3 linked regions of the Homo sapiens genome follow. The protein of the gene in region 3 binds, or shares a complex with, the protein of the main gene of each other region. Each region holds a gene or a part of one and is shown on either strand. Other genes may lie near its edges. The genes, in order: NTSR1, GRM3 and ARRB1. A codon is read from its position in the direction of its gene.

Region 1 (9,813 bases), on a different chromosome or scaffold from region 3:
GAATAGGCCTGACTCCCCTGGGCCCTGTTCTTGGTGAGCCGAAGGGTCCTGTGGTTGGAGAGGGATTTTGTGGGGTTCAAGGAACCCGTCAACTCAACAGCCAGATCCAAGCGACTGCAGATACTGTAGCATTCGACTCTCATTTCTCAGACGGGGAAACTGAGTCCAGAGAAGGCAAAGTGGCTGAACACAGCCCAAGACCAGGTGTCCGGGTCCTGGGTCGACATGGCCGGTGCAGGCAGCCAGCCCAGAGCCCATTTCCCTGGGGCAAAGGCTGCTCTGAGACAGGGAAATCCCTTGAAGAAAAGGCTGACTTTTGCTTCCTGTGGCTCCCAGCTCCTGGCTGGTCCCGGCCAGCTTCTCCTGGGACTGTCTTCTCTTAGGCTTAGGCGACCTTCTTAAGCCAGGGGCCTGGCTAGTCATGTGCTCTGTGGAGCCTGGATCCTAGAGACCAAGGAGGCGCCAGCTTTTTCAACTGCTTGGAGGCCGGGGCCAGGGCTGCCGCCGCCAGAAGGTGACAAATGAGTCTGTGCCTCAGCCCAGGGCTGCCGGCCAGCGGTGCCTGGACACACCGCTCCTTCTCACCTGAAGCCTGAGTTCCTGGGACCTGGCATCTTACTCAGAGACCAGGCACCATCGCCCCTGTCCCACATTCCCCTTCTCAAGGCCCCACCCTGAAGCCAGCTCTGGGCCTGGCTCCAGACCTCAGCCTGCACAGCCACAAGCAAAGCACACGGAATGCGCACCCCATCCTGGCCACGGCCACTCGGGCAGGTGCTGGAGACCAGGCCCCTGATCCGGCGTCCCTTCTGCCGAGCCCGAGAGGCCACAGCTGAAGATCTTGAGGCTGAGGCCTGAGCCCCCTCCCATGTGGTGTCCTGGCAGAGCCCCTGGGCCTTGGCCTGGGTGAGGATGGGAGGGAGGAGGGGAGGCTGGGGTCTGGGCCATTCCAGGCCAGCCCATTTTTGTCCTTTTTGGGCTTGTGGTCCCCTCTGGGGGCTGCAGCTGCCTGCGGCGAGGGTGGTGGGAGGGACTCCCCACGGCGATGGGCCCCCAGCTTGCCAGGCCTGAAGGGGCGAGTCAGGGAGCTTTCTTGGAGCTGCCTGGGGGAGGGGGGCATGGGTCTGCATGGCAGGGTCTGCACGTGAGGCCCAAAGCCACGGAGCCTGCGGGACTGGGGCTGGACTCCCCGAGCTAGACAGAGGGGGTGCAGGCCTCAGAGATGTGGACATGGGAACAGCAGCCGGGCCGCCGGAGGCCCGGCCCCACCCAGCACCTTTCATTTCCTTCTCTGGAACCATCCATTAGTCTGAGAACAAAGAAAACTGCCTTTTGCCGCACACTAATTTCTCCTTGTTAGAGGCCCTTTTCCTATCTGGGAGAGGAGCGCTCTCTTGTTCTGGCTTTCAAAGAGGAGATGGGGGAGGGGTGGGGAGGAGTTGGGGACAGGCCCGGGAGACACTAATGAGAAACATGGGTTAGGGGGTGGGAGGGGGGGGTCCCAGGCCTCAGACTCCAGTGCAGGCTGGCCTCTGCCTGACCCCCATCAAGGCTCCCGGGTGGGGGCTGCTCTGTCTGTCGGGGGCAAGGACCCATGGCCAGGCTCCTCCTGGACACGTTCCGGGGCGCACAGCCTAGTACAGCGTCTCGCGGGTGGCATTGCTGGAGAGGGTGTGGTTGCTGGACACGCTGTCGGCCTTCCTCGAGAAGGCTGGCCTCTTCCTCCTGCGCCGCCACACCGGGCAGAGGCAGGCCAGTGTGGCCAGGAAGATGTGGCGGAAGTTGGCAGAGACGAGGTTGTACAGGATGGGGTTGATGGTGGAGCTGACGTAGAAGAGTGCGTTGGTCACCATGTAGAAGTAGTGGTAGAAGTCATAGAGGAACCTGCGGGGAGAGAGAGGCGCTCAGATCCCAGAGAGAACTCTTGAGGGCCCCAAGGCAGGGTGACAGCCGGGGCCACAGCGGCTGAGGGACGTGGTGGCTCAGACGCTAATTAAAACACCCCTTGAGAATGGTTGTTTGGGGACATTTCATAACAAGCTCCAGGGTCTGGCTTCTCCTGAGCAGCTGCAAGTTCTCGTCGTGCTCCCGCCCAGCCTGGGCTGCTGCTGCTTTTTTTTTTTTTTTGAGACGGAGTCTCGCTCTGTCTCCCAGGCTGGAGTACAGTGGCGCGATCTCGGCTCACTGCAAGCTCCACCTCCCGGGTTCACACCATTCTCCTGCCTCAGCCTCCCGAGTAGCTGGGACTACAGGGACCCCCCCACCACGCCCGGCTAATTTTTTGTATTTTTGGTAGAGACGGGGTTTCACCGTGTTAGCCAGGATGGTCTCGATCTCCTGACCTCGTGATCCACCCACCTCAGCCTCCCAAAGTGCTGGGATTACAGGCGTGAGCCACCGTGTCCCACCCAGCCTGGGCTTCTTTAGGTGGAGCGTGGGCTCTGCTTGTCCATCCCTGCCTCTCCTTGCAGCTGCCTGCATTGCCCTTCGCAGCTCTGTGCATCCAAGGGTCCAGGGCTTGGCTGGTCCCGGCCTAACCAAACAGCCAGGGCAGTAACCCCCTCCACACCTCCCCAGCAGCCACACACCTTGCCCTCAGCTTGTTGCCTCCCCCCACAGTGATCTCACTCCCTCACCAGGCAGCTCAATTACTACCAGTCAGCCCTGAGTTTCAGAAGCTTTTGCAGGGGCCACACTCTGTTCCCCGTGCCTTCTCCTCCTCATTGGTCGTAGGTGCGCCCTCCCTGGTGGTTGTCACTGGAAGGAACCTTTTATTCTGGGATCTGGCAGCCCCACTGCACAGAAAAGGGTTCACAAGTGGGCCCCAAGCTGCCATCTCAGGATGGCCAGCTGGCAAGGCTGGCCTCTGGCTGGTGCCTGGGGCCTTGGATTTTGGGAAGGCTCTGCCATTTTTGGGTGAGAAGGGCTCCCTGCCCCTGAACTGTTGGTGCAAACAGTAGGGGTTTTGCCAGGCAGTGGGTGCCCCTGTGATCGGCCCCCATATCGTCCTGTGAGGCTCCTCTGGGAGGGGGCCCTGGAAGCTGCATCTGGTCTTCCGCTGACCCCACTCCATGTGTCTTTTCCCTTTGCTGACTTTGCTGTATAAGCAAAGCTTTGTCAGTATTGGTGCTCTTGCTGCGATAAGTCACAGCCCTGAGTATAACTCCAGGCTGAGCCCTGTGGGTCCAACCTGGGTGGCCTTGGGGCTCTGACAGCTGCCATATGAGGAGGTGACACCCCCACCATGTCCCCAGCAGAGCCAGGGATGTCTCTCTTTCACCTTCGGGAAACTGCCTGGGCCATCTCTCTTAGGACCAACTTTCTTTCTCTGCACCAGTCTGGCCTGAATAGCCCCTGCCTTGAACCTGTCCCTCCATGGCCTTCTCCCGGCCCCAGTCACAGCACAACCCTGCCCAGGGGGTCGCCGGGGGACTCACCACACCCCTGCCCTGAGTGGATCCCCTCAGCAGTGCCTGCCACACCCACCATCTGTTTTGGGAGCACTTACTTGTCCAGCACCCAACTTCCTGGTTCCCGGTACTCACGGAGTCCACTGCTCATCCGAGATGTAGCAGAACATGAGGCGCCGCACGTGGTAGGGCAGCCAGCAGACCACAAAGGCGATGACCACTGCACCTGAGGCACAGAGACGTGGGCTCAGAGACCCACTGCACCTGAGGCACAGAGGCGTGGGCTCAGAGACCCACTGCACCTGAGGCACACAGATGTGGGCTCAGAGACCCACTGCACCTGAGGCACAGAGACGTGGGCTCAGAGACCCACTGCACCTGAGGCACAGAGACATGGGCTCAGAGACCCACTGCACCTGAGGCACAGAGACGTGGGCTCAGAGACAGGACATGGGCTCAGAGACCCACTGCACCTGAGGCACAGAGACGTGGGCTCAGAGACCCACTGCACCTGAGGCACAGAGGCGTGGGCTCAGAGACCCACTGCACCTGAGGCACAGAGGCGTGGGCTCAGTGGGGGAGACATGGGCTCAGAGACCAGACACAAGCTCAGAGAGGGAGAGACGTGGGCTTGGGGAGGGAGCATAAGCTCAGAGACAGGACACAGGCTCAGAGACAGGACACAGGCTCAGAGAGGGAGAGACATGGGCTGAGGGAGGTAGACACTGGCTCAGAGACATGGGCTTAGAGACACAGAGATATGGCCTCAGAGAAGGAGACACGTGGTCTGAGGGAGATGCAGGGAGACATCCCATGTTCATGGATTGGAAGATTTAATATTGTTAAGGTGTCAGTACTACCCAAAGCACTCTACAGATTCAATGCAATCCGTATCAAATTTCAAGAATGCTTTTGGCAGAAATAGAAAAATCTGTGCTAAAATTCATATGAAATCTCAAAGGATCCCGGACAGCCAAAACAATCTTGTAAGAAAATAAAGTTGGAGGTCTTACACTTCTTGATTTCAAAACTTACTACAAAGTTACAGTGTGGTGCTGGCATAAAGATAGACACGTAGACCAAGGGAATAGACTAGAAATCTCAGAAACGAACCCTTACCTTTATGGTCAAGTGATCTTCACCAAGACCATTCAGTGGGGAAAGGACAGTCTATTCAACAAAGGGTGTTAGGAAAACGGGACATCCACTTGTATGAAGGTGGATCCTCCCCTCACACCATATACAAAAATGGACTTGAAGTGGATTAAAGACCTGAACATAAGAACTAAAACCATAAAACTCCTAGGAGAAAACATAATTACTTTACAACATTGATTTTGGCAATGATTTCTTGGGTATGACACCAAAAGCACAGGCCACAAAAGAAAAAAGTAGATAAATTGAACAACATAAACACTGAATTTCTGTGTATCAAAGGATGCCATCAGGAGAGTGGAAGTCAGCTCACAAAAAAGGAGAAAATATTTGCAAATCACATCTGATAATGAGTTAACCTTGAGAGTATAACTCCTAAAACTCAACATGAAAACAAACAATCCAATTCACAAATGGGCAAAGGACTCAGACATTTCTCCAAAGAAGATACAAATGGTCAACAAGCACATGAAAGATGTTATTAATCATTAATCTTAAATCACTGGAGAAATGCAAATCAAAACCACAACGAGATGCCACCTCAAATCTATTAGGATGGCTACTATTAAAACAACAGGCACACACTGGGACCAGGACACACCTTGGATGTTGGCAAGCCAGCCGTCCTGAGCTGGGGCTGGTCCTCAGGGTTCCGATAGGATGGGCGTTGCCCTGCTGTGGGCTTCGCCAGCCCTGAGAGCTCCGTGTCCAAAGCCCTGGCTGGTTCCCATGAGCAGGGAAGGCTGAGCCCAGAGCCAGGCTCTCTTAGGGTAATGTGCTTGGCTATGGGCCTCTCCTGTGACTGGCCACACCCTCAAACAAGCCCTGAAAATGGGCCAGCACCAGGGAGGAGCTCAAGCCAAATGCTTCAGGCAAACCAAACTGAAGACCTGGGTCTCAGGCATGAAAGGGCTTCATTCTCTCCAGTTCCCATCACACTCTCCAAGCCCTGTGTTGTTGGCAGCGTCTGCCCTGCCCCTGCCCCGCCTTCTTGCCAAGCACCTCCCACCACAGGGCCTTTGCTCCAGCCATCCCCTCGCCTGCAGCTCTGTTGCCCAGATGGGCTCCTGGTCCTTGGGACTTGCAGGATGCCACCTGCTCTGAGAGCCCCTCCCAGCTGCCAGATGTAGTCAGGGGTGGTGGTGGTGGTATTTTTTTCTTCATGCTCATCACTGGCTGAAGGTGCCTGGTGCCTGTGTTTGTGTCCTTGGTGGAGCCCCTGTTCCCCCAGAGTGCAGGGATGCCCCTGCCTCTGCTGCCTCCATGCCTGTGAGCAAGAATAGGCGAGACCCAGGGTGGGCACTCAGCCAACTGCTGAGCAAATGAATAAGTGAGCACGTGAGCAAGTGGACAGATGGACAGAGAGATGGATAGATGGAGGGAGGGAGGAATGGAACAAGGGAGGGAAGGAGGGATGGAAGGAGGGATGGATGGATGGAATGAGGGATGGAGGGAGGGAGGGATGATGGGTGGAGGGAGGGAGGATGGATGGAGGGAGGGAGGGATGGATGGAGGGAGGGAGGATGGCTGAAGGGAGGGATGGAGGGAGGGAGGGAGAGATGATGGCTGGAGGGAGGGAGGATGGCTGGAGGGAGGGAGGGAGGGAGGGATGGAATGAGGGATGGAGGGAGAGAGGGATGATGGAGGGAGGGAGGATGGATGGAGGGAGGGAGGATGGATGAAGGCAGGGATGGAGGGAGGGAGGGAGGGATGGAATGAGGGATGGAGGGAGGGAGGGATGATGGAGGGAGGGAGGATGGATGGAGGGAGGGATGGACGGAGGGAGGGAGAATGCATGGAGGGAGGGAGTGATGGACGGAGGGAGGATGGATGGAGGGAGGGATGGAGGGAGGGAGGATGGATGGAGGGAGGGAGGGATGGAGGGAGGATGGATGGATGGATGGAGGGATGGATGGAGGGATGATGGATGGAATGATGGATGGAGGGAGGGAGGGTGGATGGAGGGATGAAGGGAGGAAGGGAGAGAGGGATGGATGGATGGAGGGAGGGAGGAAGGAAGGGAGGGAGAGGTAGAGGAATGAATGGAGGGAAGGAGGGAGAGAGGGATGGATGGAGGGAGAGGTAGAGGAGTGAATGGAGGGAAGGAGGGAGAGAAGGATGGATGGATGGAGGGAGGGATGAAGGGAGGAGGGAGGGGTGGAGGGATAGAAGGAGGAAGGGATGGATGGATGGAGGGAAGGAAGGATGGATGGAGGGAGGGAGGGAAGGATGGATGGATGGAGGGAGGGAAGGATAGATGGAAGGATGGAGGGAGGGATGGAGTGCAGAATGGCACTCACCCCTCGGGGGAGCTGGCACCCTTGGGTCTTGGCCTGACAGCTCCATCCCTATGTCTTTAAACCTTGCCCAGGCTTGGGGTGGTTCAGCGCTCGCTGCCTTTGCTAGCCCTGGCCTGCCTCCCGCCCCTGGAGGGCCCAGAGGTTACGTACGTAGGACGCGCACGCCGTGCCGCAGGGCCTGGACCCTGCCAGGCTCGATGGCCATGCTGAATGTGCTGTGCTCGCCCCCGACCGTGCACACTTGGCCCTGCTCGGCCGCCTGGCGTACCATGACGGTCAGCTTGTTGGCGATGATGGTGTTCAGGACCGAGATGACCACCATGGGGAATATGAAGGACATGAAGGTGTTGACCTGCAGGAGAGGAAGGGCGAGGCTGTCAGAGCCAGCAGCGGGACTCATGCACCCTCAGCTGGGATGCCTGCCGTGCTGATTGGGGTGTCAGGCCTGCTCAGTGTGAGGTGCTCAGTCAACACAAGTTCAGGAGGTCCGGCCCTATCCCGGCTGCCCGGAAGACATGGCCACCCCTGGCTGCTGTTGTAAGCTGGCCCTCAGCCTGCCCCCGACCCTGCCTCTGACTGGGAAGAAGTTTGCAGACTCCCCTACTTTCATGAGTCCCTCCCGAGGGTCCCGCCTGTACACAGCAAGGAACACAACCACTGGGGTGTCCCAGCTGTGGCAAAGGCCCTAGGCTCTAGGTTCCCAGGTCTGGACATGTTGTGTGCATGGCTGAGGCCCACAAGCACGTGGCTGCCCCACCCCAAGGCCCGTCCTGTGGGAGAGTCAAGCCCTGGCCTTGTAGCTGTGTGCAGACAGTTCTCCTAGGTCCTGACAGCTCACACTAATAGAGGCCCCTTCCTCCCTCCCACCCCAGCTACCTCTCAGAGCATTGAAAGGTATAGGGCCCCTGTTATCAGCACCTGGAGCCCCCACTCCCCACCTCTAGCTTCCACATCAACCCACAAGGCTGGGTCATCATAGCTACCCTGCACCTGATCCGAGTCCTGGACAGGGTAGAGGTCCTGCCCAAAGACTCCAGCGCAAGGGGGGCTGTGCCTGGATTTGAGCCTGGCCTGAGCTGAGTCCCGCTCCTTCTGCGACTCCTGGCTGAGACGTGACTCTGTAGGCACTGGCAGGGTGGCTGTGACTTCCCCAGATGGGCAGTGGCCTAGCCTCCTCCTCAACCAGAGCTGCTGCTCAGAACAGGAAGGGGACATGTCTGCGGACTGGCAGCAGCAGAACCAGCCAGGACGGCCATGGCCCGGCTTCCAATGGAGAAACCGGCACCCCTCCCTGGGGCAGTGGAATAACAGCCATCAATGGCTTTAAAATCTTCCTTGGCCTTCGGTTCTTTGTAAGATGCTCTTCTCTGCAAGCCAGATCTTGGCGTCTTTGGCTGCCACACTTGCGGGTTCGATCCTGTGCCGGGGACGGAGGCTGCCCCCTCTCTGCCAAGCTGCCCGGGATCCTCATGCTGAATTTCTGATTCCAAGAAGCTTTTGGGTGTCTTGGAGAAGCGGCCTGTACTAGCTCTGTGGCTGGTGGCTGTGATTGCGGTAGAAAGTCCAGGGGTATCTGCCGTGGGATTCCCTGGGCTGGGCTGCAGGGGCCACCTCCCTCCCAACCTCCTGCCACAAGGGAGGGCAGAGCCACATGGCCTCAACAGTCCAAGTCAGGATGGTCCCGGTGAGGACAATCCTCGCCGTGTCTCGCTAATGAAGGCGGCGGTGGCCATGGGACAGGGCAGCCACTGAGAGGTGCTGGGGTCGTGGGAATGTCGGCAGGTTTTCTCCCTGGCCCCCTCTGGGCACCGGCTGAGGCACCTCTGGAGGTCCTTCCTGCTCCCATCGAAGCTCCCGGCTCCACTCAGAAGCACTCAGAGGCCTTCAGGAAGGAGGCGGCCTGAGTTTACCCTCACATTCCATTTGAGCAGAGTTCTGCTAACAGATCAGAGGACATGCATGGAGAGGGGGCACTCAAACCCCCGGGAGGCAGCATCCTGCACCTGCCAGCCCAGCGCCCCTTGCTCGTGCCACCTGTGTGGGCTCCTGAGAGCCACCACCACCGCTGCTGACCCTGGCTGGGTGGCGGGTCTGTTCTGCCCTCCCCTGCTTGGGCGTCCGGATCTGAGGCCGTCCCGCGTCCCTCCTGTTCTCCTGCTCTGGCCGAAGTCCACCTTCTGCAGGACAACAAGGTGCTGGTGAGACTGGGGGCAGGTAAAAACTCCCTCTTCCCACTCCGGCTGCTGGGAGCGGGGACAGGGGAGGCCAGGCCCAGCCTCAGGAGATAAACCCATTCCCTGTGAGTCACCGCAGCCCGGGGATAGTTTAAACAGCACCAATGTATCCAACACAGATTTTAAATGTCAAAACATTTAAAATACCAACCTCACCAACACGGCTGGCTGCAAAAATAGCTACCTCTGGGGGCTGGTGGGTTGTAGGGTCTGGCCCCGGCCCCCTGGCTGCCCCCGTTGGAGGATCCTGCCGTTTCCAGAGGGAGGGAACAGAGTCTGCCGCAGGGCCACGTGTGGGGACAGAGGCGGGGCCTTGCAGAGGAAGTCTGGCCCTCCCCCGCCTCCCCCACCTGCCCACCCTGGAGACTGAAGCCGAGTAGGATTGGGGGGTGAGGGGAATGCACCCCGACTCCTGGGGCCGGCCTTCTCTTCCCAGACGCACAGCTGGAAGCAGGGGCTTTGGCTTGCGCCGTCCTTTCCTGTAATCTCTCCCGCTCTGGGTAAGGAGCTGCCCCCCACCTCCACAACAAGCAAAGGGAGCACGTCCATCGGCAGCGCGGGGACTCGGAGGAAAGCCTGCGATGCTGCTGGGGGTGAGGGGAGGTGAGGGGAGGACTGAGCGAGGGGAAGGACAGGCCCCTTCCTGGACAGAAGGACCCGTTGAGATCACGTCTGTGCATCCAGTCCCTATAAAACACGAGAGCTGTTGTGCAT
Region 2 (9,813 bases), on a different chromosome or scaffold from region 3:
TCTATATGTAGGTACATATTGGAATATTCAAAGTTGAGGTTAATGTGAGTTGAGGTAGGTGTGAGTTAAGTACCAACAATAGTTCCTTAGAGTTTCTTTGCTTGAATTTCTTAGAACTGTCCAGCACAGCTACAGTATGTTTCTTTGTGGTGGGCGGGGGGGTGGGGGTGGGGGGGTGGGGGGGGGTGGGAGGGAGTTTAGGGGGTGGAGTCTGCTTTGGTTTATCTGATCACACACTTTAAGATTCCTCTCTGAATTCTAATTGTTTGCAGAAGTATATTCAATATAGGCATTACTAAAGTAATCTAGATTGCCACTATGCTAAACTATGGATAACAGTTCCTAACAAAGATGCTTAGGACACTCTAATGAATAAATATGATTCTATATTCCTACGTACCTTGTTTCTAAAATCAGCCCAATAGAATTTGAATATATTTGGAAGCTATTGTATGCCAGAAATTATTGTAATACTTTTCCTTTCACAATGGGTAGTGTTTTATATTTACAAAGATTTCTTACACCTGTAGACTTTAGCTGTCAATCTTATTGGGTTTTGATCACCCAGCAGGAGTACATAGATATTTTGAATATACATGCCCAAAGGCTATCTTATGTTCAGAGTAACACAGGAGCTCAGGATGGAAAATGAGGAAAGGAAGTCTTGAAACCTATACCTTAACAAATAAAACAATGAAATTCCAGAATATCTACCTTTATTAGATGAAAAAGAATATGGCAACAATACCTTTTAGCATTGAAACCCCTCCTGCCCCTAGATACTATATATCTAGGTATAAAACTGTGGTTTTATGAGTTAGGCCCTTACCAGTGAAATGTGAAACCTAAATCATAGAAAATTATGCCAGTACAATGAATAGGCCACACTTTGGAGCTTGAAACAGATGTCTTTCTATTTATTTAAATTGAATGGTATTTTTCAAACTTCAGGAATATATGATCAGTAACAAGAAAATGTGTGGAAAGCCACACACACAAAAAAATCTTATAATTAAAATATACTCTGTGACCTACTTATTTTTGCACAATGGGCTTTTTAAAAAGTTGTGGTATACATGTGAAAAGGAGTATAAATCCGATGATTTAACCCACAACTACACATATCAAAATGATGAGCTCATCTTTAATTTTATATCACTGTAATTAAAATTGGTAAGTTGAACAAATGCAAATATAACGAAATTGATTGAGCTTTATGTTTAAGTTGAAATTAATATTTGTATTGAATAAAAGAATGGGGATAATTGTCAAAAGCTCACTGCTTCACTTCTCTATGACAGGTGATTAGCTGGAATCACACAATTGAAGATGTTCTTATTTTGAAAGATTCTCAGCAATAACATTTTACAACTTCCCTGGGTACATTTTCCTCACTTTTATTTCATGTCGAACTATCTTTTTGCCAAATAAAACTGTTGTCTTTCTTGTCCATTCTTCTAATAGTGATCAGTCGCAAAATGAAGCATGAGGTTTTTCCAGGATACTAGCTACCTCCTGCCAAAATGTAGCACATTGGCTTGGGGGTGAATTTTCCAATTGTTTTCCTGCACTAAACATCATCCCAATATTCTACTAAACAAAAGAAATGAAAATGAATACCTAATCACTATTGTAAAACAAGGAGGGCAGGATTCAGTTACGCACACTGGAATGTGGCCAAAGTTCCAGCGTGAGACTTGTTTTCTCCAGGAGTAATTCTCAAAAAAAGGAGTACGTGTTTACTCACAGTTGTCTCACTTTGCTATTTTAAACTGAGTTTATTGTGCATTCTCACATCTTTTGAGACTCCACTAAATGGATCCAATACTGCATTAGATGAATTTGTTGAAATTGCTCCCAAGGAGGAGCATAAAATGATAGAAGATTATCTACCAAGTCTGAACACATAAAATGAGTATCATCATAGTAATCACTGAGACGGCAAAAACTATTAGCTCATACCCCTCCTTCTACTTCTAATGTAGGCTTGGTCCCCATAGCCTACTGTATTTTGGAGTACTTCAGTCCAGTCTGACTTTAAATGGATCACGTAATGACTTCTTCCAGAGTCTTTGAAAGACTATTTCAGTCTAATGGTTCTCCCTATTAAGAACTTTGTTGTGATATTCAGCTTAATTTTCTCCTGATTATATTTTATCTTGTTACTTAATTCCTATTATAAACCTTCTGGACTAGTTCATCCTCTTGTCTGATTCAGATTCTTCATCCAACATTTCTCTAGGACTTATAAAATACAAAAGCTTCACACAGTTACAGGAGAGAATACAAAGATGGCAATTCTATGTCCAGACATCTTTGCTAAATGTTTAAGACATTTTTTGCACACTTATATATGTGTATAACTATATGTTCCTAATAATTTAATTTACTAATGTAAGAATTAAGAAATTACCTTTTCTGATGTTAATGACCTATGTGAATATTAAGGTGGTACTTTCTGAGGAATGTTCTATGTGGATGCACATTATGAGACATTTTCATTGCAAATTTGTTTGCAACAGAACCCTGTCAACGCCCACACTACAAGGGAATTTTGTGACATGCTGGTCTGATGCTCCTCTGAGCCCCAGAAGCTGTTGTCATGTAAATTCCACTATTGAAATGAAAGTGATGTCCATAATTAATAGAATGTGCTAGGAATGTAATAGTGTATATAGTTTAGATGTGTATGTTAACAAAACATAGTAATTCTGTTAGGATTGGCAGTAGCCCCTTTATACTGAAACAATCTAAAAAACCCAGTGGAATTAAGGCCAAATTATTCACCGTGCTGCATTATGAAAAGTAAGCTTACATCATGCATATATCAATGTGGAATGTATTTCGATATATATGGAGGTACCATATGTGAAGGTTACTTTAAAAATAGAAAAGCCTGAAAAAAAAAACATAAAAAAACAGGTTTTCACTTTGTTCACTTGAAATCTTGTTCCAAGACATCCGTGTGTAGGCTTCTTTAAGATTCTTAAGCAAATATCTTGGTAGACTCACCATCCCACTCAATTGTTTCTCCAAGTTCCAGGCATTGAAATACAAGTTCTGCTAGACAGTAGAGGAGTAAATGATATAAATCAGGAAATAAGTTCCTAGGTTACACTTAGCAAGTCAAGAAAATATAAAACCAGAGGGAGGTGAATCAGCATCTAAAAACACCATTTAGTGCTATCTTACTGCTTGTTAAGCATTCGACGGTACATGGAAACACTCACGTGGATTAGGTTAAGAAATCAAGGAGGAGACATCTTTCCAAAACTTATTTTTAAACAAATAAAATTAGACTGCACGAAATAATTTTTAAACAAGTACTCTCCCTCCTGAGGTCCCAAAGTATTTTTATAGTGCTATTCATCACATAGTGGTGAGCACCCTCCAAATGATTTTCCTTAGAAACAAAAGGAAAATCAATTTTCTTGGTATAGAAAATGTAGGCCATTAATATACCTATAGCTTCTCTCTGGAACAGCAAGGCATCCAAAGAATCTGTGCCTACACAGAGTAAGTATTTCTTCATCATATTGAACAATCTTTTTATTGAACTGGAAATTGTACACTGTACTTTAAGGAGAGAAATAAACTTGGAAAACATTCTGATATAATCTACGTAGGCATAGATTAAGGCACCAGTTTGAAAATAAAGCCATATATAGAGAAGGCACCTCCACAAAAAGCCCAAAGTAACTCTGATCTTTAATTTCTTATCAGAATTTACTTCACTACTTCACTATCATTGACTGTATAACTACACACACACATATTTGAGTAAATTCAGTTGAAAGGGTATAGATATCTAAACAGATTAAAAAAAATCAAAACCATGATGCTAGATACATAGTTTGAAAAAAACTTACAACCTATATATGTAGCATGGGAATATTAGGAGTATAAAATTTGAGAAGATTCCTCTAAGAAAGAGTCTATCATCAGAAAGAAAAGGTAGCTAATAGGGAAACAATTAGTCAATAAATATTTATTAAGTACCTATTTTGACCAAAACAAAATATAGGACATGCATTGGGAACACAAAAAAATGTTCACACACAAAGTTTCACAAACATGTGTAAAGTTGAAAGTGCTGCAAAAATCAAACTTGAAATTTGAGAGTAGAGAAAATGTTACCAGAATTATCAACCAAATGAAAAAGTCTGTTCCTTAACAGATGCATTCATATTTAGGATTTTAAATGTGTGTATATATTCTGATGCCTTGTGGAGACAGTGTTGTATGCTGTGAGGTGACAAAACTAATAATAAGTCAAAATAATAGGTGATAATTATTAACCAACTTCCCTGTGTGAAGAACTCTGCTATACAAGAACTATACAGTACCTGTGAAGTAGGTACTGGGATCCTCATTTTATACAGAAGAGGAGATGGAGGCCCAGCAAGATAAAGTAACTTGCCCAAGTTCAGGTAGTTAACAAGGCTGCAACTGGAATTCAAAACCTACTTTCTTATTCTAAGACCTATTTTCTTTACTACCAATATTGCCTCACAATTTTTTAATTTATTTATTTATTTTAATTAATTTATTTATTTTACCAGGCTTCATTGCATTCAACAAGTGTTTTCTGAGCTCCAAGTAGAGGGACATGCTTTGGTAAGGAGGGCAAACAATAATCAATGAAAGGGAGTCTAGAATAGACTTCCCCAGGCTCAAGATCTTTCTCCACTCCAGACACTGTCCCTTCTGAGAGGCAGAGACATGCAAATGGAAGAAGTAAGCTAAAACATTATTTATAATTGACTAGGACTAAGGATGAAATTCTAAAATAGAAAAGTCTATGAAGATTATAAATGAACAAGCTGAGAAATAAACACCAGGTCTGAAAGTGTGAGGAAAATATATTTCTTGGAGTCTGATTTCAATGACCATTATCATCTGTAAAACTTAGTACAGTGGCAAGAATATAGTCTCACAAAAAGCCAGGATAGAGGTGAGTAGGATTTCTGCTGAGGCTAAAATGCTGATGTTTCTCTCCTCTTACAACCTACCTACTTCCCACCAGGAAAACAAGCTGGTAAAAAAGTTTTGTAGTATAGTAAAATTTTCAAATTTCTTTACCCTGCTGAAGTAGTAATGGTTCATCTTTATGTTAGAAAACTCTCAGCATTTTACACATCGGGACATTTATCCATAATATATACAACAGCATGAAACTGGAAGGGATCAGGGATTATGAATTTTAAACACACTAAGAATAGGAGATGCAAAGTGACCTGCTGGAGATTCCAAAGACTGTTGGTAGTGCTGCTCCAGGAAAACCCACATCTCATTATTCTCTGACCTCAGTGCCTTCCCACAGACAGGAAACCTGCTGTCTTAATTGCATGAGCTTATACTTCTTTTCACACTTCTTTTCACACAACCAAAGGGCTGAAACAAATCTTTACTTGAGGGTCTTTCTCTGATTTGTGATATGTGCTAGAGTAATTAATGGACATAAAAAAGGAACAGATATCACAGATCGCCCCTCCATCTGGTGGAGGCTGTTTCTTTTGATTGTTAATAATAGATAGCAGATAGATTATTAGTAATATTTGCTTAACAGTTTCAATGAACCATGTCTTGGTGAATACAACATAATGGAAGCTGCTTTTACAAAATATGTCAGAATACATGCCAATCTGAGAGATGGCACTACAAGGTCAAAAACGTTGGAATTTATATCTGCCTCAAGGAGAAAAGGATATCTAGAGAGTATAATTAACTTTCTACTTTGGAACATCTTGTTTTTCCTGAAAAAGCAGAGACCCTCTACATGCTTATGCATTAATCCCAGTGATTTCTGTGGAATCCACATATATGGACTGGTGACCAGTCCATACTATATTGGTCACTACTACACTGGTAGCCAGACCATACCTAACTTCAAAATTGATTAGTAGACAAGACATGAACTTAGATGTCTAACAAATCTCTTCCATAGATTTTGTTCAAGACGTCCCCTTGAAAAAAATGTTTTGAGGAATGCCAAAAGTCCCACTTCCCCCAACACCCAAAATATATTTTTCACTACCTTCCTTGGTTCATAAAATTTTCCAAATTTTAAACTGAAGTATTTCATCCAAGAAGTACTAAAGAACATATAGTTCTAGAACCACATAACGTACTAACCCTCCAACACATTCTGAATTTATAGGCTCATTTTTCAGAAAAGGTAACTTTACCAGTTTAGTAGGGAGTAGGTAGAATGAACAATTAATTTATTGAATTTTTACGTACTTCACGACCTTGTCTAAGACAAGCCCTTCCTTGGCTATGGTTTCCTAAACACTCATAATGCAGTAATTTGAAAGGAAACAAGCCTTCTCTTAGTTGTTGAACAAATGAAGCCCTGGTAGGAAAAAGATTGAGGTGTTAGAGTGCTCACCCTCTACTTTTTTTTTCTTCTTCTAAGGTCCTAAATTTGTGTTTGTTGCTATGTGATATAACAAGACAGGAAGGAAGATAATTTTTGTTTGTTTTTTGTTTTTGTTTTGTTGTTGTTGTTCTTTTTTTGAGATGGATTCTAGCTCTGTTGCCCAGGCTGGAGTGCAGTGACGCAATCTCGGCTCACTGCAACTTCCGCCTCCCGGATTCAAGCGATTTTCCTGCCTCAGCCTCCCAAGTAGCTGGGATTACAGCCGCCCGCCACCACGCCCAACTAATTTTTGTATTTTTAGTAGAGATGGGGTTTCACCGTGTTTGCTAGGCTGGTCTTGAACTCCTGACCTCATGATCCTCCCACCTTGGCCTCGAAAAGTGCTGGGGTTACAAGCATGAACCATGGTGCCCGGCCAGTAGCCGATAGTATTAGGTCCACTTCTCATATGGAAAATGCTGGAACATTTGAAGTAGGAAAGGGTAAGAAAATTGAAAAACGAAGAATAGTTAACCTCTCCCTTTCCTTTATACTCCCCCATGTATTGAACAACAACAACAAAAATCATCTATTTACCTCTGCTGTAAATAGTCTGTGAAATTATTGCCCAGAGAGCCTGCATTAGAATCACTTTGAAGTTTACTTAAAATGAAGAATGCTGGGACACATGCATCCCAGGCTAATTGAAACGAATGTCATATAGATTGAAGTTTTGGAATCTGCATAGTAAGTAAACTTCTGATTATTCTTGGGATTTGAGAAACATTGTTGTCTTAGTCTGCTCAGACTGCTATAATGAAATACCATAGACCAGGTAGCTTAAACAACAAACATTTATTTTTCACAGTTGCAGATGTTGCGAAGTCCATGATTAAGATTATAGCAGATTCAGTTCCTGGTGAGAGTCCTCTTCCCAAGCCACTTTTTTACTCTGTGCTCCCATAGCTGGGAGGAAGAGGAGGTGCTCTGGGCTCTCCTCCTCTTATAAATACATGAATTCCACCATGAGGGCCAAACTCTGATGGCCTTTTGTAAACCTGATCATCTCCCAAAGGCCCTGTTAGTAAACGCAATCACATCGGGAGCTAGGGCTTCAGCATGTGAATTTTGGAGCAACACAAATATTCGGTCCATAACAATTACATGTAGAATGATGGTCATACACAGAATATCCAGTGAATTTCTTTTACCAAATTACTTTCCACAGCAAGTTCATTCTAATTGGATTAACCAGTTGTATAAAGTACATTCTACAAGCCTGAGTACTAATTAAGCTCAACTAATAAGGCACAGTTTCTATAAGTTGTATGAATAGATTTTCTAGAAATGTCCTATTATCTTCGTTGTAAAGGAAGTTTTCCTGTTACCTATAGTAAGTTCCCATGAGATATGCAAACACATATAATAATACACATCTTTTGGATATTCTTATTCGGAGACTTCCTCATTTTTAATCTTTTATCCTGTATTTTATCATTATATTAATATTAATATATTAGAAAGAGAAGTTACTGGTATTTGAAGAAGTTACTGATATTCTTATTAGAAAACCTTCTCACTTTTAATATTTTATCCTATATTTTATCATTAATATTAATATATTAGAAAGATAAGTTACTAGTGTTTGAAGATTATCATTAATGAAAAGATTATTTCTTAGAAACTCTCCTCGATTTGAATAACTGCACTCTTAAAATTCAAATTGTCTTTATAGTTATGCCCTTATGAGCTAGGGGATGTGGGAAAACTTCTGTCACAACTCTCCCCACTGCCCTCTAGATCTGCAGCGTGGGGGCAGGGGAAGGACCTCATTTGGCAACTTACACATTCTTCACTCAGCGTCCACTTCGTTCAAGTGAATGGTTGCTTAGCTAAAGCCGGCAATCCTCACAAATACTGCCAAAGATAGTTTCCTAAGCAGCGTTCAGAGCCACATGGGAAAAATGCCGAACAGGAAGTGAGGGACTGGCAGCAGGGAGGGGGAGGCTCAGCCTGGGCCACCAGCTTTACCTCCCAGGGGTTTTGTGCTCCCTCTTTGCCTTCACTGGAATGCTACACTTAGTAGCTGACTTCATGAAGAGAAAAGCAATAAAAAACAGAGCACACCCCCACTCTCCCAAATATTTTAATGGTTTGAATTTTTTAAGACTCAGGAATCTCAGAGACAAAACTGTTAAACTGTTGAAAGTTACACCGTGTCTCAGCAGAGCCTGGCTTTCTTGACCGTTCTGATGGTTACAGTACTTCTACCTGATGATGTCACTTCTACTGGACTGTCCCACTCACACAGCAGTCTCTACGTATCTAAAGCCAAAAGCCCACTGCCTCCCCCAACTAGCAACTTATTTTCTGATTCTAAGAGAAACATGATTATTTCTCCATACAATCATTCAAAATTGTGGAACTGCCCATGACATTTTTCTTCTGTTTAGTCCTCTGTTGATTCCTTCCTAAATGATATGGCAACTTCTTTATTCTCCTACCACTGACAAAACCTTAGCCCAGGTTATCATCACTGTCCTCTCAATCTTTAACCATTTATCTCCTTCGTTCTCTCTCTCCTTATACAATTACTTATTCATCAGAAATTTAATGAGTGCCTACTGTGTGTTCAGTCACTGTTCTAGAGATATTATAGCATGAACAATAATGTAGAAATTTTTTTTATATTCAGCTTACACTAAATAGACAATAAACAAGAGAACAAATACAGTGTGAAGAAAATAGAATGAGGGATGTACAAAAGTGAGAGAAGCTGGAAAAGGAAGTATTGCCACCAGATTAAACTTGATGAATAACTGGTTTTTCCAGGTGTTAAAAGCATTAAATATAAATATCACTTAAATGTAACTTCCCAGCGTGGCCATTAAGCATTTTACAATCAGGTCCCTGGTGTATCTTTCCAATCTGTCATCCTCAACATGAATATCTAGTCTACCCAGACCTTTCTGTTTGCACCAAATACACACCTGAGTGTCTTTGTAGTATGATTTCATTTAGAATGTGTTTTCTTCCTCCTTTCTCCAAACCTATATTTAAGTCCAACTTCAAAGTTCTGCTTAATCTAAGTTCATACTAATGATTTTTTATCTGTTTTACCAAAGAAATTTTTATTCAAAACATCCATGTGGTCCTTACTGTAGGTAGGCCTGATTACTAAAATATTGCTTTGGCATAAGTAACAGGTAGGTAGATCAGTAAATTGTGGAATAAAATAAAAAAGCAAATTTATTTTTATTTCTCACTGCCCCTTTAAAAGGTATTCAGTAAAATATATTACATTTGTGTAATAAAACAACAAACCCTAACTTGCAAACAGTCTCAATTCAAAAATTAGTATGCCTAGACCAATACAATAATTGAAACTTTGAGCGCTAAAGTTGAATCTTTTCTCTATCCCCAGCAGGAGCCTCTTTCAAGTAAGAAGCTGA
Region 3 (10,550 bases):
GGCTCCCTCACCAAGCTGCTCCCAGCCATGCAGGCCTCAGCCAGATGGTAGGCGCGGGCACTCTGGCAGTAGCGGAGCATGGCTGTGTAGAGGCCAGGACCTCACTTGGGGTGTGCTGACTCCCAGCCTGCTGTTCTACTGCCACCAACCCAAAGTGTCAGAAGCCCTGGAAGTGGCAAGCCCACAACTCAGGACCTCTGGACCCATGCCAACGGGAGGCGTCAGCCTCAGGCAAGGAGGCCCAAACTTGGAAGGAAGAGAGCAGTGGAGAAGTCTGAAGCCCAGAGGCCGGCCTGGAATCAGGGATCAGAGACAGTGGGCCAGACTTGATGCTACCACTCCCAGCGGCCCCATGAGCAGCCCTGGCCAAAGCCACAGGACTTCCCCATGTTCCAGCCAAGATGGGTCACACAGGGCTTAACCACCAAGAGAAATGACAGCCAAAGTTCACAGAGAGCTGGTGATTACATGTCCTCATCACCCTCCTTTCTCTGAAAAAAGAGGAGTTCATCTGCAGGAAAGGAAATTCCATTCCCTACCACTGCCTCTCAGGAAGTCCCTCCTGTTGTCTAAATCTGATCCTTCATGTTGTCTGTTGAGTAAGTGGAAACGGCAAGGCCCAGAAAGGACGCACAACTTGAGGCTGGGAGCTGCTGGGGAGGCCAACTGTGAGCCAGACAAGGCCCCCTCTCTTGGGCAAAAGCGTCGAGTAGCAGAGAGGGCTTTGTGGGTCAATAGGCCTGGGTTCTTATGCTTGCTGGCTGAATGGCAGTGAACAAATACTTAATCTCTTCTAGTCTGTTTCCTCATCTGCAAAATGGGGACAACAATGACTACACTACTAGATTACAGTTGAATTCATTGAGATTATGCGTGTAATTCTAACACACACCAGATACCTGGCAAAGGTCCAATCGACCAGCAAGGTTGATGGACTCCACCTCCTATTCACATTCATATTTCTCAACTCTATCCTCTCTGCAGCCTAAGTTCAGAGCTCACAGCCTTAGTTCTCAGGTTTCTCCCCAGCCTCCTCACTGGTCTTCCTGCTTCTAGGCCTGCTCTTCCCATCCACCCTACTTGGCGCTGCCAAAGACATCTCTCTGAAATGAAAACATCTGCTTCCAGCCCTCTGCTGCCTCACACTCTTCTCTGAATCACCATCCACTTCAGGAGAAAATGCTCTCTCCTTAGCCTGACATTCCCAGACTGCTGGTGACCGGTCTGTGTTTACCTCTTAAGGCTCACTATCATCCCCAGCCCAGGCCCCAGGCTGCACGCCTTGCTTCCTGCCTCCAAGCCACTGCACATTCTGCACCCTTGGCCAGAAATATCATTCCCAATCCCGCCCCCTTGGCCTATTCATCCTTCCAGATGAAGCTCAGTAGTTCCAACGCCACCTCCTTTCCAGGAGAGCTTCCTGTACCATGCTCCCTGCCTGGGCCTGGGTTGGGGACTTCTCCTTAAGCCTCCCACAACACATGTCATCCTGCGTTATGACCACCTGCTCTGCTCTAAATCCCTGGAGGACAGAGTAGACTCCTTCCTTGCTGAATCCCCAGGCCCTGGGCACTCAGAAGGCACTCATCAACATTTGTTGAATGAATATATGATTGTTCCCAGAGCACCTTGCAGCAACCATCATACTCCTGCCCTGTGATTAGTCCTGTCCAGGTATTTTTTTTTTTTATTTTTTCAGACAGGGTCTCACTCTCTCATCCAGGCTGGAGTGCAGTGGCATGATCATGGCTCACTGCAGCCTTAACCTCCAGGGCTCAAGTGATCCTCCCACTTCAGCCTCCAGAGTAGTTAGGACTATAGGCATGTGCCACCACACTCAGCTAATTTTTGTGTTTTTTGTAGAGATGGTATGTTGCCCAGACTGGTCTCGAACTCCTGAGCTCAAGCAATCTGCCCATCTCAGCCTTCCAAAGTTCTAGGATTACAGGCGTGAACCACCGCGCACAGCCCTGTCCAGGTATTTAACACCTCTTTCCCCCTTGACCCTGGGAGTTCCTAGAGGGCAATGACAGTTTGTGATAAATTTTCATTGTCACTTTCACATGGGGGTGCAATTCCAGATGGAGGGATGGTTGCGATGATTCCTGATGTTCAGTTTTTGATATCTGCAGATTCCTCTTCTAAGTCATAGGTACTCATGCCTTACGGAAAAAGACAAGGTACAGCCCATTACTGATTTTGCCCTTCTTTTCCAAATTACTTAGCCAACTGTCCGGAAAGGGACAGAAAGGCCTCATGGGGCTGCAGGAGAGTCTGAAGGGGAGGTCTGGGCCACCATCAGGTGGATTTAGCCGGGCCTTGGCTCCAGGCTTCAGGCAGTGCCTCTTCCCCTGCCCAGTGAAGTCAGTAAGTACAAGGGAAGCCCTAAAATGTAAGTATTGATAGCTCCAGTTTACAGATGGGAAACTAACGTCCGGAAAAGTAAAGGCAATTGCCCAATGTCCCAAAGGTCCACCAGTGAGTTTGAGGCAGGGCAGGGGGAGCCATGGAAAATACCTTGGCCTCAGAGACAGGGTCTCCAACAGGTGCCTGGAAGCCCATGGTGTCCACATCTTCCTGACAATCATGTCAGCAGGACAACAATGACACTTATCCCCCAAGTCACAGAGAGGTACAGAGAGACCCAAGAGAGGCTGAGTCACTCCGATCACAAGGCAGCCTAGGAAGGACAATGGAGTGGAGAATGGCTCCGACTCCCTGCTATGCCCTGCAGGAAGAAAAGCCTGACCTCATGGGTCAAGAGGGTCTTAATTTCAGGGCAGATGGATGTGGCTGGGGAAGGAGTCACATACCTTCCTACTGAGGACAGAGGCCTAGGTCACAGTGCTGGCCAGCCAGCTGCAATGGGGACTAGCCATCAAGGTTCATGCAGACACAGCATGATCTTCTGCCGTCCCCCCCAAAGCCTGGGCCTCCAGCACAGAGCAGGGCTCCCCTCCCTGGCCCATGAGGGGCCTGGCAGTGCCCTAGGGCCATCCACAGAGACATGACCAAGTGGACTCCAGCCTCCGCCCTGCCTCTGGCCCCTTTTGACCTTAGGCAAATCACATGGCCTCTAGCCCTCTGGTTCCTCTGCTAGAAAACAGGAAGAGGAAAATTAACCTCCTGGAAGAGCTGTCAGGAGGATGGCTGGAAAGTAGTTTCTAAACATTAAGAGCCTGAGTTGCCTCTGAGCCTGTTTCCTCCTCTAGAAAATGGAAATAATCTCTGCAAGCCCTTTCTCACACTGTGGAGAGAGAGTCTTAGATGGCAGTGGGTGAGAAATAGCTTTGTCAGTGGCCCTGAAAGGTGGTGCCCACCGGGGTGGTGTCTCTCTAGTCTGTTAGCTCCTTCAGGGGAGGAGTGGGCCTTGCGCATCTTTGATCCCCCACACTACGCCTAGTATACAGCAAGAGCTTAATAATAAATGGAAACGAGGAGAGGGGAGGGGAGGAAAGGAAGGAGGCAGAAGTCGGACACAAGAATAGAAGAGAAAGACAGAAAACAATGAGAAAGAGGGGGAGCCCAGGGAGAGGCTGCTGTGCCCACTTAGGGGGTGGGGAGGGCAACGGGGAAAATAGGGTGGCAACGCTGAGCCCCTGACCAGCGCTGGTCCTGTCTGAAGGGCTGCCCCCAGGGGCTGTCCTGCTCCAGCCCCCTCCTCCTTTTGTCCCAGTTTCCCCTTTCAGAGGCAGAGACTGTTTCTGAGTATTTCAGGACAGGTTCTAGGAGAACGGGAGGGGTTCTCCCAGCCCTAGGTTCAAAACAGCCCCTGGCCAGCCACTCCTCAGGAGGTCAGAGGGAAAGGGAACAGAGTAGATGGATGGGATCTATTTGGATGAAATGCGATCTGTTTTCCCCAGGCTGGGGGTGGCGGGGGGCGCTCTACCCTGTGTGATGTGTGTGTTTCCACTTCTGGCCATGTGGGGCCTGAAGCGTGTGTGTCAGCGGGCCTTGGGCTAGCAGCTCGTGCCTGTGGGGTGCCAGTCTTTGAGGGCATCAGTCTGATTGTGTCTGTGGGGGTCAGTGTTGGTGTGGCCTTGCGCTCCGCTGTGTTGGTGAGACATGCCAGCACAAGTGTGTGTGCCAGTGAGGGTGATGTGTGTGCCAGCAAGAGTGTTTGCTACAGCGAGTGCAGGTGACAGTGTGCGTATCAGTGTATGCCCACACGTGTGTGCCAGCACGAGGGTGTGCTAGAATTGGTGTGTGTTGGATTGTGAGCTGTGCATGCCAACAAGGCTGTCAGCAAGAATGTGTTGACCGAGGCGTGTATGACGGCGTGCCACTGCGTGTGATGAGCGTGTGCTAGCGGTTGCCAGTGTGTGCGCCAGCATGCCTGTGCCACGGGTTAGTGTGCCCGTGCGTGTATTGTGTGTCAACCTGCCCCCGTGCGTCTCTGCGGCTGCCGGCCAATGCTGGGTGTCAGCGAGCTGTGTGTCCGGGCCAGGAGCTGCGGCCCACATGGGGCGGCCCGGCCCTCGCCCTTTGGGTCCCCCCGCCCACGGCCCTGCCGGGGAGACCACACAGGAGACCTCGGGTGGAGGAGAGCTGGTACTAGATCCCGCGGTGGCCGCGAACGCAGAACCAGGACGCAATCGGAGCCCCCGCCCGTGTCCTCGCCGAGGTCGCCCCCACGCGCCCCCCGCCGGGCGGCCGCCCTGCACTCACCGGGTCCCTTTGTCGCCCATGGTCCGCGACGGTCGCAGGGAGGTCCGCGGCGTCAGCGCCCAGGCTGGAAAATCCCCAGCCAGCAGGAGGAGCGCGGGCCAGCCCGCTCCCGGCTCCCTGCTCCGCCTCCTCCGCTCTCCCGGCCGCCGCCGCCGCCCCCGCCCCCGGTCCCCGCCCGCCGCCCGCCGCGTCGAGCAGCGCAGCGCCCGGGCCGCGGCCAGGGGCGTGGAACCGCGCGGGGTGTGTGCGTGTGTGTATGTGTGTGTGTGTGCGCGTCTGCGTGTGCGCGCGCCGCCCAGCGAGGCAGGGCAGCGCGGCGGGACGCGTCAGGGCCCCAAGGTCGGCGTTTGTGGTGGGGGAGGGGGTCCACCCGCGTGCGAGTCCGTGTGAGAGTGTGTGTGTGTGTGTGTGGTGGTGGTGGTGGTGGTGTGGTGTATGTGAGGGCGCACGGCTGTGTGCGGGCCCTATTAGGGAGTGTATTGGTGTGGATGGAGGAGTGTGCACGTCTTTGTGCAGTTGTGCGTGTGTGCGCACGGCCGTGGGTGCGAGCGCGCTCTCCCGCGCATGCCGGGGCAGCCTTTGTGTGTGCGGGTGGTTGGAAGCCGAGGGTCTGGCGACCCCGAGGCCGCGCTCCCTGCGGCCCCTCGCTTAGCTGGAGACCCCGGGATGCCTGGCAAGGCCTTCGCCCTGTGCTCCACCCTTCCCCATTCCACCCACCCCACCCCCTTCTACTGGAGAGATAACACCCAGCCACACAACAGGGACAGGAAGAAGGGGCGGAGGGGGCAGTAGACGGCCTTGACACTGGGGAACTGAGCGGAGACCCGCGGCCAGCAGGGGCTGCAGGAGGCCGCCCAGGAAGAGGAAGCTGTGAGAAGTGAGAAGAGGCGATAAAGGAAGAGGGCAGAGCTGGCCCGCTGCTGTGACCGGGTAGCACCGTGGAAAGCGCCCATGCCCAGCTCCATGGCTCGCTGTGGGTGACCCTGTGCACTAAGCTTCTGAGAACCCATGTCCGGACCTGTAAAGTGAGGATACACTAATATCAGCCTGCAGAATTGTTAATAGGTTGAAAGAACTCGCTTGTGTTTGCTGGCCTCCCCTGAGCGCCTGCATACAGTAGGTGCCCAGTAGATGTTAGCCCACTTCTCTGCAGGCTTCTTGATGTCCTGTGAAATCTTGGCTGGGACCCTGCTTTGTCTGAGGTGCCTTCCTGCTTTGCAGGTAGTGGGAAACGGTAAGGTCTTTACCACACCCTCACTACTGAGATTTGGCTAATTATCCCGGATAGGTCCCTGATATCTAAGTATTAAGGGGAAAGTAAGCTATCATTTACTCTGATGCTGTTGTGAGTATGTAAACATCTCCTGTAATTATGCTCAGAAGCAGTTACCTATACTGTTTATATGCAGTATAATTACTATAATTATGTCCAGATTTGGCAGAGGGGCAGGGGGAGGCTGATGGGTAGGCAGGGTGGCCCACCTCTGGGCAATGTTAGGAGCTAGAGAGTATGGATGAAAGCCCAGAACCCTCCTCCCAGTCTTGGCCTCTGGGTTTCACCCTCTACAGAGGAAGAAGAGGAAGCCACCTGTTGTTTCTGCAGGGCTCAGAGATCTGGAAAGGAGCAGACTAGAATCTTCTTTGATGACAGGAGATCCCTAACCAGGATGGTGAAGCCAGGTCCTGCCACTCTCCACATCAGTTTCCCCACCTGTAAAACAGGTTTGACCAAACCATAAGATCTCCAATGGATCTCTCCATGCTGATGCCCAAAACATCTAAATATATTTATTTATTTTATTTATTTTTGAGACGAAGTCTTGCTCTGCCACCCAGGCTGGAGTACAATGGAATGATCTTGGCTCACTGCAACCTCTGCCTCCTGGGTTCAAGAAATTCTGCCACCTCAGCCTCCCCAGTAGCTGGAATTACAGCCACTGCCATCATGCCCAGCTAATTTTTGTATTTTTGTAGAGATAGGGATTCACCATGTTGGCCAGGCTGGTCTCGAACTCCTGACCTTAGGTGATCCACCCACCTTGGCCTCCCAAAGTGCTGGGATTACAGGCGTGAGCCACTGCTCCCGGTCGATTTAATTTACTTTAAATTCCAGTGAGGGAGCAACGATGGCAGAAGAAGAGTCAAGAGGACAATTTTGCTTTACCTGCCAGGCTCTATGAAAAACATATATATATATATATATATATATATATTTTTTTTTTTTTTTTTTTTTTTGAGACGGAGTCTTGCTCTGTCACCCAGGCTGGAGTGCAGTGGCGCAATCTCGGCTCACTGCAAGCTCTGCCTCCTGGGTTCGGGCCGTTCTCCTGCCTCAGCCTCCCGAGTAGCTGGGACTACAGGCGCCCACCACCACGCCCAGCTAATTTTTGAAAAACATATTTATGTATTAATAAAATGGCCGGGCATAGTGGCTCATGCCTGTAATCCTAACACTTTGGGAGGCCAAGGCGGGTAGATCACTTGAGGTCAGGCGTTCAAGACCAGCCTGGCTAACATGGTGAAACCCTGTCTCTCCTAAAAATACAAAAAAAAAAAAAAAAAAAAAATTAGCCAGGCATGGTGGCGGGCGCCTGTAGTCCTGGCAACTTGGGAGACTGAGGCAGGAGAATCACTTGAACCTGGGAAGTGGAGATTGCAGTGAGCCGAGATCACGCCACTGCACTCCAGCCTGGGTGACAGAGCCAGACTCCATCTCAAAAAAAAAAAAAATTAATAAAATGTAAAAGTGATAATGTTGAGGAGAACTCTTTGTATATCCACAATATAATCTCAGCCAGTAATAAGTTTTATGAAGAAAATAAAGCAATAATGAAACAGGGTGATAGGGACAAGTAGACTTAGAAAAAGGCCCTAGGCCCTCCGAGGAGGTGGGCTTTGGGCTGAAACCTGCGGAAAAGAATCAGCGATGTGAGGGGACAGTCAGGGAAGATGCTGCCCAGGCAGAAGGAGCAGCAACTGTAGAGGCGCAGGAGCAAGGACAGTGCTCCTGGTGTTGGTGAACAGGCAAGGGGTGGTACAGGTGAGGCAGCAGGGTTGGGGTCACACAGAACTTGTAGTTGAGGATGAGGAGTTTGGGGAGCCAGTGGGAGGTTTAAGCAGCTGAGCACCAGTATCTGCTTTACATTTTTAAAGGTCACTCTAACTGTTGGATAGAGATGACTTGGTACTGGACAACAGCAGAGGCAAGGCACCCCATTATTGCAGTCGTCAGGGTGGGGTTTTGGGCAAGACAGGTGGCCACAGAAATGAAGGAAGTAATGGGGTTCAGGATATATTTGGGAAGCAGATTTTTTTTTTTTTTTGAGACAGAGTCTTACTCTGTTGCCCAGGCTGGAGTGCGGTGGCACGATCTCAGCTCACTGCAAACTCTGCCTTCCAGGTTCAGGCGATTCTAGTGCCTCAGCTTCCTAAGGTAGCTGTGACTACAGGCGCATGCCATCCTGCCCAGCTAATTTTGTATTTTTAGTAGAGACACGGGATTTCACCTCAAGTGATCCACCCGCCTCGGCCTCCCAGAGTGCTGGGATTACGGGCGTGAGCCACCACGCCTGGCCGGGTTCAGGATATATTTGAAAGGGGAGCTGCCAGCACCTACTGAGGGACTGGCTGTGAATAATGGAGGATCCAGGATGACTCAGAGGTTTGGGTCAGGGTCTGTCTGTGCCAACTCTCCATGTAATTCTCCAAGGGAAGTCACGGTCGAGAGGACTGGTGGCCTCCATTCTTCCCGTCAACCCATTTGTGTCACATCCTCCACCTGAGCAACAGAGTGATTTTTGCTCAAAGGCAAATGGCTTCTGCAGCTGAGGCTCATAGGAGATGGTCATCTCCAACTGTGTTCCAACTAGGGCGAGTCACATGCCTGAAATTTACCACTCACAATCATTTCTTATTAAAAAATGAGAAAGGGTGGTTCTGGGTGTGGTGGCTCATGCCTGTAATCCCAGCACTTTGGGAGGCTGAGGCAGGAGGATTGCTAGAGCCCAGGAGTTTGAGACCAGCCTGGGCAACATAGTGAGATCTCTACAAAAAATAAAAAAACAAAAAACTAGCTGGGTTTGGTGGTGTGTGCCTGTAGTCTTAACTACTCGGGAGACCAAGGAAGGAGGATACCTTTAGACCAAGAGTTTGAGGCTGCCATGAGCTATGATTATACCACTGCACTCCAGCCTGTGCAGAGACCCCTGTCTCTTTAATAAAAAAAAAAAAGAAGAAGAAGAAAGAAAGCAAGAAAAAAAAAAAAGAAAGAAAGCAAGAAAAAGAAAAGAAAGAAAAGGAGAGATAGAGAGAGAGAAAGGAAGTATTATGTCTGCTTTTTAGATGAGAACACAAAACTTTACAAGGGAAACTGCTTAAGCCAAGGGCATAGCAAATGAAAGGTAGAGCAAGGACTCAAACCCAAAGCTTCTGCGTAGCTGGGCAGGTAGCTGAGTGTCAGACTAAAGTCAGACTGAAGTGTAAGTGAGTGGGTGGATGAGTTTTCAGCTCCTTGTTCAACAAAGGACTTGAGCTGGGTGTGGTGGCTCACGCCTGTAATCCCAGCAATTTGGGAAGCTGAGGTGGGTGGATCACCTGAGATCAGGAGTTCAAGACCAGCCTGGCCAACACCCTGTCTCTACTAAAAATACAAAAATTAGCCAAGTGTGGTGGCACGCGCCTGTAGTCCCAGGTACTCAGGAGGCTGAGGCAGGAGAATCGCTTGAACCTGGGAGATGGAAGTTGCAGTGAGCCGAGATCATGCCACTGCTCTCCAGCTGAGGCGACGGAGTGAGACTCCATCTCAAAAAAAAAAGGACTTGAGCCTGACTGAAGCCTTACTGATGTGCTCCTTCAAGATGTTAGAAATTGAGAAACTAATAAGGAGCTTCCCTACCTCTGCCCAACCAGAAATCTGAGTGTGATCCTTGACTCCTTTCTTGTCCACCTCACTCCTTAGCTACCTAGTCCCGGACTACCTCCTAAGTGTCTCCCAATAAAGTTGGAGGGGTACCAGGAACGAGACCATGCTGGGCCTGGAGGGTCATGTAAGGAATTTGTTCTTCATCCAAGTATCAATGAAGAGGCTGTGCAGAGAGGTGACATGATCAGACATGCATTTGGAGAAGATGCTCTGGTGGATGTGTGAAGAATGGATTGGACATGCACCAAAAGGGATGCAGACAGGAAGACCAATTAGGACATGGTGTCAGCAATTCAGAGGGAGGAATGATAACTGCATTCCAGAGAGAGGACACACAACAGCTGCAAAGCCAGGAAGGAAGGAAAAGGCACAATGCTTGGGGGAATTCAGATGGATCTGTGGCGAAAGCAGAGTAGTGGGGAAGGATTGGAAAGGAAGATGGGGCCGTATCCTGAGGAAGCAGGCTCAGACAAGGCATCTCCCCAGTATGGCTCAGGGCCTGTTTTAGGTTTGTCTAACAAGATCTCCAGTCCCCATTTTCCTAAGATGGGATTGTTGGTATTTATCACTAGGTGGACATTTCAATGTTATCTTTTTTTTTTTTTTTTTTTGAGATGGAGCCTCGCTCTGTTGCCCAGGCTGGAGTGCAGTGGTGCGATCTCGGCTCACTGCAACCTCTGCCTCCCGGGTTCACGCCATTCTCCTGCCTCAGCCTCCGGAATAGCTGGGACTATAGGCACCCACCACCACGCCCAGCTAATTTTTGGTATTCTTATTTTTAGTAGAGACGGGGTTTCACCGTGTTAGCCAGGATGGTCTTGATCTCCTGACCTCGTAGTCTGCCCGCCTCGGCCTCCCAAAGTCCTGGGATTACAGGCGTGAGCCAACGTGCCCAGCATCAAAATTCTCATTTGTAATCAACAAAAACCAATTCTGGCAGACTTAAACATACAAAAAAATT

What was found.
Region 1: the proteins of ARRB1 (region 3) and NTSR1 are in contact, whole or in part, in a cryo-EM structure (PDB 6UP7), measured with the Homo sapiens proteins. Residues at the interface, in NP_004032.2 of Homo sapiens: Tyr63, Arg65, Asp67, Leu68, Val70, Leu71, Gly72, Leu73, Thr74, Phe75, Arg76, Lys77, Asn245, Thr246, Ala247, Gln248, Tyr249, Lys250, Lys284, Arg285, Gly286; in NP_002522.2 of Homo sapiens: Ser93, Leu94, Gln95, Ser96, Leu97, Gln98, Thr100, Val101, Arg166, Ile170, Pro173, Lys177, Phe286 (codon at 7,076), Ser287 (codon at 7,073), Met288 (codon at 7,070), Ala289 (codon at 7,067), Ile290 (codon at 7,064), Ala297 (codon at 7,043), Leu298 (codon at 7,040), Gly301 (codon at 7,031), Ser368 (codon at 1,790), Asn370 (codon at 1,784).
Region 2: the proteins of ARRB1 (region 3) and GRM3 are in contact, whole or in part, in a cryo-EM structure (PDB 9II2), measured with the Homo sapiens proteins. Residues at the interface, in NP_004032.2 of Homo sapiens: Gly5 (codon at 4,676), Thr6 (codon at 4,673), Arg7, Val8, Phe9, Lys10, Lys11, Ala12, Ser13, Pro14, Tyr21, Arg25, Arg65, Glu66, Asp67, Leu71, Gly72, Leu73, Thr74, Phe75, Arg76, Lys77, Arg103, Leu104, Lys107, Pro133, Arg236, Phe244, Asn245, Thr246; in NP_000831.2 of Homo sapiens: Pro605, Lys608, Ala609, Ile669, Phe670, Asp671, Gly672, Val673, Lys674, Asn675, Ala677, Gln678, Arg679, Lys681, Phe682, Ser684, Cys761, Pro762, Glu763, Phe765, Val834, Val835, Thr836, His837, Gln855, Ser856, Ser857, Ala858, Ser859, Thr860.

Annotation. Positions count from the first base shown.
Region 1 is NC_000020.11:62,752,089-62,761,901, reverse strand, and holds part of NTSR1 (neurotensin receptor type 1), read right to left. Parts: intron 7,218-9,813; coding exon 7,016-7,217; intron 3,637-7,015; coding exon 3,546-3,636; intron 1,885-3,545; coding exon 1,635-1,884; 3' UTR 1-1,634. UniProt on the Homo sapiens protein: G-protein coupled receptor for the tridecapeptide neurotensin (NTS). Signaling is effected via G proteins that activate a phosphatidylinositol-calcium second messenger system.
Region 2 is NC_000007.14:86,645,830-86,655,642, forward strand, and holds part of GRM3 (metabotropic glutamate receptor 3 isoform 1 precursor), read left to right. Parts: intron 1-9,813. UniProt on the Homo sapiens protein: G-protein coupled receptor for glutamate. Ligand binding causes a conformation change that triggers signaling via guanine nucleotide-binding proteins (G proteins) and modulates the activity of down-stream effectors.
Region 3 is NC_000011.10:75,346,920-75,357,469, forward strand, and holds the start of ARRB1 (beta-arrestin-1), read right to left. Parts: upstream 4,743-10,550; 5' UTR 4,689-4,742; coding exon 4,669-4,688; intron 1-4,668. UniProt on the Homo sapiens protein: Functions in regulating agonist-mediated G-protein coupled receptor (GPCR) signaling by mediating both receptor desensitization and resensitization processes.